Regions from separate parts of the Homo sapiens genome. Here region 1 is linked to region 2. The links come from fine-mapping of genetic effects on gene expression. A gene starts in region 2. The other region holds a variant in brackets. All regions are shown on one strand. Distances are from middle to middle. Region 1 overlaps TG (thyroglobulin). Region 2 holds the start of SLA (Src like adaptor).

Region 1 (5,378 bases), 53 kb before region 2:
ATTTTTTTTAAATCATATATATGTGGTCCCTGCTTTCTGAAAGCAAGGCTGATGCTCATTTTGGTGAAGGGCTCTAGCACCAGGTGGCTTTGGCACTTATTAGGTGCATGGGAAGTACTCTCAGATAGTGTGTTTTCTCTTCTTTGATATTGAATGTACAAGAAGCAAGCCAAGAACTTGAAGATACCTTCTGAATTTTAAAAAAGTTATTATTATTATTCAGTCTGGGAAAACCCTAGCTGTTAAGTATTTGGGGATAAACATGGTACTCTCCTACTGTAAATCTCATGGTCTAGATCAGGGAGCTGAGGCTTAGAGAGAGAGAAGCAGTAAATTAGTAATTTGTAAGGCTAAAATTGGAACTTGGGACCCTTGCTTTGCATCATGACAAAGAGCTCACTCTATTTGTGTTTTTACTGTGGTACTTAATGCATATGATGCAAGGAAATTGTAATGCTAGTGATGATGGTGACTGTGTGAGAGGACACATGTGATTCTCGGAGCTGTCTGATTTAGTTACGGAGCACAGAGGAAACTGATATCGGGACTGTCTGTGCAGCAAGAGCAACACAAATACTATGACATTTGAATCTCACCACACCCTTACAAGGGAGAGGTGTTCTCTCCATTTCACAGATGAGAAAACTGAGTTCAGACAAATCAGTCACAGAGCTTGAGAGCACAGCCCAGGCCCATACCAAAGGCCACATTCTATCTGCACAGCATGCTGCCTACACACTGCGTTCAGTTTTGTTCTCAGTTGCTGGAAAAATTTCCAGCAGGAGTCATCAGGCCTGATGTTGGCCAGGCCCGTGGCAGTGCCCAGCCGGCTCCCCACTGCCTGTCTCTAGTCCCCTTGCTTCCCCACTGGCCTCCCCAGCAGCGTGTGGGCTGCAGGGAGCTTAACTACATTGGATCAATTTGCATGGACGTAGGAGGAAGGAAAATGAAGCCGTGTAATGAGTCAGCCAGGAGCAAAACATGCTTGTCTGCCCCGGATGGGGAAAGATGAGTTGGGGGCCACTCACCTTTCTTGGTCTCACTCTCTCTGATCATGAAGGAGCCGACCTTTGTGTCTGGCAGCTGCAGCAGCTCCTCGGCCTTGTCTCTGCCCAGGCCCTCAAACAGCCAGCTGGGAAGGAGGAAGACAGCCATTAGGATCCGGAACAAGCCCTCCCCCAGGAAAGGCAGGAATGCGCCACCCACCGTACTAAGCACCTGAAACCTAATCCTCACCTCAACCCACTGAGACAGGAAGCATCATCTCTCTTCCACAGATGAGAATACTGAGGGTTCCAGTGATTAAGTAGTTTGCTCAGGAAACCATGTCAGCAGTTGATAGAGTTAAAATTAGAATGCATTTTTCTGGGACATCCAATTCCATAACCACCTCACTTCACTGCTGCTCTTCCTTTTATTTATGTAATTTTTTTTTTGGAAATGGATCCCTGCTCTATCACCCAGACTAGAGAACAGTGGCGTGACCTTGGTTCACTGCATCCTCCACCTTCCAGGTTCAAGTGATTCTCCTGCCTCAGCCTCCCAAGTAGCTGGGATTACAGGCATGCACCACCACGTCTGGCAACTTTTTGTGTTTTTAGTAGAAATGGGGATTCACCATGTTGGCTGGGCTGGTCTTGAACTCTTGACCTCAAGCCATCTACCTGCCTCGGACTTCCAAAGTGCTGGGATTACAGGCGTGAGCTACCGTGCTCAGCCCTGCTCTTCCTATTTGATATGTTAAGGGATGTGATCACCTCTGTTGGATTGGTAGCCTCATAGGGTCATAATTATGTCACTCCTCCTGGTTCCTTACCACCCCCAGCTCGTGCCAGCTGCAGCCTCACATCTTCAGCATGAAGGCATTGATGCATGCTTGCTAGTGAATGAATGGCTCCAGGGCAAGCAGCTGATGTAGGAGAGTCACGTGACTCCCATCTCTTTCAGAACGTGACTCCCACGGCAGCTCCTGCTTCAGTTTTGTTTAGCTTCATCATCCTAAGCATGGAAGTGGCATCTGGTATTCACAATTAAGATCATGAATACTAAAATTAAACTCGCAGAATTCCAGTCTTCAAAGGATTCAGGTGGTTATCTCTGTTTTGCAAGATGAGCATGTGGCATGTAGAGTCCTCTGGACATGAAGAAGTAACTTAGTGTTTATCAATGGATGCCTCCTTCTTTCTTTTCCATTTCCAATGTGCTTTGCATTTCTTTGCCAACTTCCAGCTTCCGACACTTGACAGATGAGGATAATGTAACTCCAGGAGGTGAAGCGACTTTTACAGGACCCTCACATGGAAGGAAGGAAGCCAAGATTTGTGCCCAGGTGTTCAGGGCTCCAAAGCCACCCAGGAGGCTGCAGAGGCCTCACTGGAACGACTACAGGGGAAAGCAGGGTGCTTATTTTCTTATCTGTTGAGCCTAGTTTTCTAAGATATCTCTTGTTTATCTTACCCATTTTTCAAGGAAGGCACATAAGCATTTTTGGCAGTAAGGATTCTGTGTGTTTCTGGATAGGTATTTGATTAGAATAGAGCTAATATTTATCGAGTGCTTACTGTAATGCCTGGCATTGCTCCAAGAACTACACATGTATCATTACATCTTATTCTCCTAACAACCCTACACTTTGATCATATTATCATATATTATTATCCCTGTCGTTCTATGTTATGATCTCTACTTGACAGGTGAGGAAAGGGAACTGATGCATAAAAAGCTTGTTCACTGGCACACAGCCAGTAAGTGACAGAGGCAGGATTTGAACCTAGACACACTGACTTCTAGTCTCTGCACTGTGCTGTGCCCTCCCATAACATTTCCCAGCTGTTTACCACTCTGTGCCAGGAGCACCATGTTAGAGCTGAAAGGTCCAACTTCCTTCATTTTACTGAGGGAGAAGTTGAGTCCCAGAGAGCAGAAGAGATAAGTTAGCCCAAGGTTGCTCCTTTCCTTATTGACTGGGTTGGGAGCAGGACTATCTCTTCTTGACCCAGTGCCTTCCTTACCACTATGAATGCTGGAATCTTTGTTCCACCTTATGAGTCACCAGCATACGCATCATGCTTAATTGCTGCCATTTGAGAAATGTACTCACCCATGGTAAACTCTGGCCACACATATTCCAGGGATGTAACTCTCTCGACCAGTGCTAAGAGAAATAGCTTTCCACCAGCCCCCTTCACTGTAAGAACAAGAACAGAGAAGAACACAGAGATAGG[T/G]AAATAGCAAAACCAAAGGATGAATGAACAGAGTAATCAGATTTAACCCAGGACAGTTTGGAACATTCCTCTTTTAAGATCTGTCACTGGCCACGTTAACCCATATTTCGTCATCTGAAAATTTTCTTTTTAAAGGATATGTGTCCAGTGGATAGCCCTCCATTGCAAGCCAACTGGTAAACCCTCCCATGTGCTAGAAATAGCTGCTTTTCAGGGATTAGCAGCTAATGTTCCCAACTGTTGGAGGCTTTTTAAAAATAAATGTTTACTATGTTGATTTATGCTCTGCAGTATAGCCAAAGATAGTTTCATATATCTGAATCAGTGAAGATCTAAATAAAAGGGGCTTAGAACTTCTGTCATGTTCTATAGCCCATATTGAATCAGACTGCAGAGGTAAGAGGAGAGAAGGCAAATTTTTGTTTTTTCTCATCCGAAGGATTTCCAGACCCTGGGGGCTGCCTTCCCGGTCTTCATTCCTACATAACATCAACACTGCACATGTGGTGGGAGATAAGAAGAATATGAGAAGAGGCTGGATCATAAAGGATCTCAAAAGCCAAGTTAAGGAATTTAAATTTGATCTACCAGGCAGTGGGGAGCTATGGAAGGTTCTAGAGCACTGGCCACATTAAAGAGGAAGGTTGCAGTATGGGTCAAATTTCTCACCTCATAATAGGACCAGGACTCATGTGGAACTAGACCACTCTAGCTAACAATCAAATACTTTTCTCCCAAACCAAGTTTATCCTGCTTTGAAGATTGCACAAGTTTTGGAGAGCTGACTCACTCAGAAATCACACGCAGTTTCTCCCCTCGGCGGAATATCGGGGGGCTGATGTCAGGAGACGGGTAGTCACTTAGCACGGCAAGGAAGTCGCTATCCAGTCCTGGGGAAACAAAGGCAAGGGGGAAGGGGGCAAGGTGCTTTTTATTCACAAGGAGCTTAAAGGTAGGCTTGGGAGGGAGGGTATGAAGATGAGATTTTCCAGCAGGAAATACCTTTCTTGTTTTGAACCACCAATTTACAGCAAGGTCCTCTCTTCAGAGATGGCTCTGCAGGGTGTGCGTACGAGCCCTGAGGGTCAGGTGACATGCTCCTATTCTTAAGCCTGCCTTGGCCCTCATGTTCTCATCTGAGAAATGGGATCCAAAGGCTGTGAGATGAGTCATGGGGTCTGGCTTCAGCGCCTGTTACGAGTCTACTAGCCTCACCCTCTCCATCTTTAAAATGGGACTAATACTACCTCATTCCAGGGTCCTTAGGAGAGGAGATGAGAGTATGTTACACCACATACGTTCACATAAGTTGCTGTAAAAACCCCCCTTCTCACTACCAATGCCTCGGGTGTCCACTCTGGGACTCAGAGTTGTTATATCTATGACACTTTTGGGGAAGGAGTGTGAGGCAAAATGAGTTCTGAGGACCCATTAGGACCATGAGGCAGTAACTCTGAGGTTAAACAAAATACTTATTTCTTGCAGAATATAAGGCCCCACGCTGGGCATCTATTTAATAGGGACATTTGTTGAGGGTGGGGGTGGTGGAAGAAAAACTTAGTACTTTTCCTAATAGTGTATTGAAAGGAATTCTGGTGAAGTTTTGAAAAGGAAAGAGGGCTGTCTGGTTCCTGACTGTAGAGGAGAGACAGTGATTTTGCTTTTTGACACTGAGCGATACGTCTGCTTCTATCCTTAGTGATTTGATGTAATTCAGATGCATTAGATGCAGGGTAATATTTGGATACATTTTTGGGGGAAATAACAAGATGTCTTCTGTATCAGCAAATACAGTTATTATTTGCTATGACTTTCATCACTCCACCTGCTGGCTGGGACTTTGAACTTAAAATTCTGGGTAACATCACCTGTTTATTCATTCGGCAACTACTTACTGAGCACCTGTCGTAAGCAGCATAGGTGAGAAAAGCAAGCCCATTCTTGCTGCTTTCACGGAGCTCATGTTCTACAGGATACATAAATAGTCATGGGAGGAACTGTTCCCTGGTTCGCTCACCCCAAGATCTGGAGAAATCCCAGTACTCAGGCATGTGGGCTTTGGGGCCCAAACAAGCCACTTTCTAGGATCCACACACCTCTAGATCCTGCCTCTTACAACTCATATGTCTTGCAGCCTCCGAGTCATAAGCCTCT
Region 2 (5,378 bases):
CTGAGCAGCTTTTGTGAGCCTGCATCCTGCCAAGAACTCATCTAGGTGCTAATTGATGAGGAGGACTACCTGCAGCAGGAGAGTAGTGACGGTGGGACTGGAAGCCAGCTCACAGCTCAGTGCCACTGCATGCAATCATCTCCTAAACATGTGTCTGCACACAGATTTATTCCTCCTGGACTTTTCCCTTGAACTCTGAACTGGTTTAGCCAATGGCCCACTTGACATCTTCACTTACATGTCTCATAGTGTCTCATCCATAACACACCCAAAGTGGACTGCCGATTCCACCTCTGCTCCCATCCCCAACCAGCATGTTCTTCTGTAGTCTTCACCATCTCAGTAAACAACTCAGCAACTAAACAACTCATCCTTCTGTACTCAGGCTCAAAACCAAAAGTCATTCCTGACACTGCTCTCTCATACCCTACCAGCATTCTATCAGAAAATCCAGCTGGCTGTATTTTCCAAATGTATCCCAAATCCAAACCCTGCTCCCCTACCTCTTCTGCTATCACCCTGATCCAGCCACTTTATTTGAGATTTTTGTGCTAGCCCCCAACTCTCTCTCTGCACCTGCCTTGCCTCTTATAATCTATGAGAAGCACAGTAGCCAGAGCAATCCCTTTATAAGTCAGACCATTTTACTCCTCTGCTCCAAGCCTTCTCTCCAGTGGCCTCCTCTCATGCAGAGGAAAATTCCAGTCTTCTATGAACTGCCAGAGCCTATTTGATGTGACCTCTGTTAGCTCTCTGACCTTAACTCCTGCTGTTCCCTCTTGGCTCACTGGTTTATCCCTTTAGAGTTTCTCAAATAGGCTGAGCACATCCCATATCAGGGTCCTGGTACTTGCTGTTTTTTCTTCTGGAATGTTCTTCCCAGACAACTCACTGCCTTACTCCCTTCAGGGTCTGCTTATCAGAAAGACCTTGCTTGACCACTTGGATTCAGAGGGAAGCCATATCCCCAGCCTTCTCTATCCCTACATCCTACACCCTACCCCAGCACTCAAACCTCCTGCCATATTATGTATTTGTCTGTTGTCTTTCTTCCCCAACTAGAATGTTTGAAACTGCTATATCTCTGGTGCCTAGAAATGTTTCTAGTTCTGCTAGACAAATTGCACACAGCAGGCACACAATAGACATTCACTAGGATGAATGAATGAAATTATGAAGAACTGACTATGTGCTGGGCCCTAACCTGGAAGTCTTCAATGAAATAATTCACCCTCACAACTATTACCCTATGAGGTGGGGATTATTATTACTATTTTTCAGAGAGAAACCAGAATTAAAACCCAGTTCTATCTGCCTCCAAATATCCTCTTCCCATGACGTCACTCTGGGAAAAGCCAGGCTTTCCTCTGAGAGCCTTCCATCTACCATCAACGGTATGCTGGGTACTGAAATGTACACAAACCCAGCTAGAATAAAGGCTACTATGTGCAAAGGGCTTTCCAATTCTACCCACATTCTTTTTTTTCTGTAGTCATTTATTGATTTATTTATAATTTTAAAATTTCAATAGCCTTAGGGGTTAGCCTAAGTGAAGTAACTCATGCTCTTACTTTACGTTATCTCAACTGTATGGCTGTGAGGTAGGGAACCATGAACCAGTATTTAACACGATTTTTTTTCTGGGAAAGAAAGGCTTAGTGAGGTTTACCGGGTGTCTCTAGGTCAGCTAACTAGTCCTTTGGAAAGCCAAGTCTCCACTGCAGGTCTCTGACCCCAATTGCAGGGCAGGAGTGGGGAGGGTGGCGGGTGGCAGGCTCTACCCATTACCCTATCTGTGATAAACACTAGGTCAGGGATGCGCTATCACCACCTTACCCCCACCATACGCAAGCATCACCTAGAGAGATCCTCAGGATTCTACCCCACACAGAACTGCAAGAGGGCACAGTGGACAACCAAGTGGAAACTGAGTTATGAGCTATGCTCCCACCCTCCCAACAGTGAGGAAACTCCTCTGGACTTCAACCCAATGTGCCCTTGTATTGCCCTCCCTTGCCTCAGCCCACTCCCAACCTGAATTTAGAGTTGGGCTTGTGCATTTCTCTGTTTGCCCCAAGAAGGCTCCATGGCACCTGGGTCCAACCACCATCAGCCAAGGAGGACCTGAAGATGGCAGGTTCTGGAGGGCCTCAATCTCAGCCATGCCTTTTACTCCATCCTCTGTCCTTTGATACCCACCCAGCCCCTCCTGCCCCATCTGGGGCTGAGAAACAGGACATATCAATTGCAGTAAATTGCCACATCCACCTAAACAGGGTGTCCAGCATGTTTTTGTAACACCAACACCTGTTTGTTTAGTCATGCTGGGCCAGGTGTTTCAGCATAAAATACAAATTGAATTCCTCCCCTCAGAAGGGCTTGCAGTCAGATGATAACAGACAAGGCAAACAACTGAAACACCATTGATACATACTATATGGAGAGATGGACATCTATTCCAAGACCTCAGGAGGTGGAGATCAGGTGCCATTGGGCCCCATAGCAGCACTGTCAGCTGGAGTGACACAATGGCCAGGAACTGACCAGGACCCCGCTCCCTTGGTCATGTGTCAACACAGCAGGGAGAGTGTCCTGGGTGTCCTTGGATTGCAATCACGAGCATCCAAGTTACCCAGAGTCTGAGCCTCAGTTTCCCTATCTGTGAAGTTGGGAGATGATTAGTAAATATCCTCATAAAGATGTTCAAAAATTCAAATACACAACAATATCTGGAAAATAGTTTGGCTTCAATAAATGTTCGTTCTTTTCCCTTAATTTTTTAATTTTAATATTAAGATTAGTGTCCAAAGCTGTTATCCCTTCTTCAGATAATTATACACAGAAAGCAGGAATACAAAGAACGTCCAATCTCTGAACCACCTCAGCTGACCTGAGACCAATTTTCCAAATTGTAGTAAACACAAATGCATGCTCTCTACTCATGCCAACGCTGCATAAGTATCAGCTGGATCCCAGTCCACAAACACATGCAGTGCAGCTTCCCAGGGAAGTCACGGAGGGACAGGAGTGGAGCCTCTTACCCCAAGTCCTGCCCCCTGGAGCTACTCACCACCAGCAGAGACCCACCCATTTTCTTCAGACCAAAGACGGAGGGTGGGTACAGGATCCATCAAGTCCCTCTGAAGACCCTCCCCCACATACCACCCCAGGCCACCTATGGCCCACCCAGGGGGTCCCAATGACAGCAAAGTTAGCAACCTACCGGTGGAGCATCAGGGCTGCCTGAGATGTTCTCCATTCGCAGCAAATGATCTTATTTTCTGAAGTAGCAGCTTTCTATTGAAATTCTTCATCAGTCGCTGTCATGGGGAATTTCTCCCCCTTTTCTCTTTCTTTCTAACTGGTGAAATTGACAGTCTGCCTACATTATCCAGGCATTCATTTGCATGATCAAAAGCAGATTTGTTCCAAGATGCAATGTTCTGCCTTCCCTTCCAAGCACAGGCATCTCCAAGGAAGGCGAGAAAAATCAGAAACAGAGCGCCTCCGCTGTGCCCCTAAGCTTGGCCAGGAGTTGGCCTCGTCTGGGAGCAGGTGGAGTGGGGGCCCTGTGGGTAGCAGTAGGGGGAGGGCAGCCCATGTGGGAGTTGGAAAGCAGCACCTGGCAGCCCGAGGCGCTGGCACGAGCCCCAGCACAGGAATATCCAGTCTTTGGTGACAGATTATAGTAAGAGGAGTATGCAGGAGTTTCCAGTGTGTGTGTGATTTCCTGAAAGGAGGCACTGCTGCCTTAAATCCCCAGCACTCAGGGACGGGAGGGTGTTAGGGTCTGAACCCAGGGCATCGCGGGGACCTGGATTCAGAAAAATGGGTCACAATTCTTAGCTTTAGCCACACGATGTAGGAGAGTTGCTGAACTGGTCTGAGCTGCAGTTTCTTTAGCCTTCAAATGGACACAGTGAGAGCCACCCTGTCTGTCTCTTGCAGTGTTATAAGAAGCGAAAGAGGTATCTCCCAACACCCAGAGAGCCCTGTAGGTCTCATGGCTCTAGGATGCCCTTGCACACTGTAAACCCTCCACCCTGGAGCTATAGCCCCACATTACCCCTCACAGCTGACGCTTACACGTCACGTTGTCTAATTCTCCCCAGGGGCCCTGTGAGCTGGGATTATGGTTCAGAGAAAGCTGAGGATCAGAAGGACTGACTTGTCCCCCCCAAAATATTAAAATATTGTATTTCATGACTGCATTGTTATAAGGATGAATGTAAACCAGGCTGGATTCATTATTACATTTTCATTATTATTATATTTTTTCTTCTGATTTTAAAAGAAATTAGAAAGAAAAGACTTTTGTGAGTTCCTAAAAGTGCAGTGAGCCCTTGGCCCTGAGCAAGCTGTGCTTGATGGAGAAGTAAGTCCTTGTCCCTTAACACCATAAGGAGCAGTGAAGTCAGGAGTCATTCAAGCATTAACCCATGCAGCATCTCTCCAACATAGATTATTCAGAGGCTTCTGTGCGCTGGACTCTCTCTAGGCTTTAGAGGGCACAGTTGTAACCTAAACAGATAAAGCTTCTGACTCGGAGAGTTCATGTTCTCATGAAAGGACACAGATGATGTAAGTAAATAAAGAATTTCAGATCTTAGAAATGCCCTGAAGAACACTGAAGTGGGGCCATTGCAGAGGAGGCGATGGAATGGGGCAATTACTTTAGGGGCAGTCAGAGAAGGCTTTTCGGAGGAGGTGACTTCTGGACTGAGGCCTGAGCAATGGGGAGCCAGCGATGGGGATTGAGGTACAGAGTGGGTGCAAAGGCCCTGGGGCAGGAGTGGTCCTGGCTGTTTGGGGGTCACAGGGAGGTCAGTGCTAGGAGATCCAGTGGCCAGTGGAGGGACTGGGAGGAGAGGAAGTCAGAGGGATGAAGAAGACCAGTTATGAGATCTTTCAGGCCATCAGAAAAGTGACTTTATTCTCCTTGCAGTGGGCAGTTACTGGAATGTTTCAAGCTAATAATAGAAGGTGATTATATTGATCCACTGTTTTAAAAAGGAACATTTCTGGCAGCTATATGGAAAATTGACTAAGGAGATGTGTGACCCAGGAAGTAGAGATCAGATTGGGCTCTATTGTGGAAATCCAGGGGTTGAGCTAGTAACTTAAATTAGGGTTGCAGACATGGTCACAGTAAAAAATGATCAGATTTGGGATATATCTCGCGTTGGCAGCTGACTATATGAGTTGGGAATTCAGTAGAGAGGTCAGGGCTGTAGATACAGCTTTGGAAGAAAACCAAGAAAATGCGGTATCACAATAGCCAAGAAAAGAAAGCATTTCCAAAAGGAAGCAAAAGTCAAATGTCACAGAGTCAAGAGAGATGAGGGCAGAGATTGGGCTCTTGTAGGTCATGGGAGACC

What was found. PIP is the estimated chance that this variant, and not a neighbour inherited with it, causes the effect.
Region 1: its variant is fine-mapped to the expression of SLA in whole blood (TOPMed, PIP above 0.99). The same link has a PIP of 0.9 or more in CD4 T cells, NK cells, T cells, Th1/17 cells, Th17 cells and Th2 cells.

Annotation. Positions count from the first base shown.
Region 1 is chr8:133,046,802-133,052,179 of GRCh38, forward strand. All of the region lies in intron 41 of TG (thyroglobulin), which reads left to right. It overlaps SLA (Src like adaptor), which reads right to left. Exons shown (of 9, transcript NM_001045556.3): 4 at 4,015-4,114; 5 at 3,101-3,187; 6 at 1,029-1,132. Among named protein-coding and RNA genes, the nearest start is that of MIR7848, 2.9 kb to the left of the region's middle. RefSeq lists an enhancer at 2,211-3,410. The variant T/G (reference allele first, on the strand shown) is at 3,225.
Region 2 is chr8:133,099,330-133,104,707 of GRCh38, forward strand. It overlaps SLA (Src like adaptor), which reads right to left and starts at 3,273. Exons shown (of 9, transcript NM_001045556.3): 1 at 3,224-3,273. All of the region lies in intron 43 of TG (thyroglobulin), which reads left to right.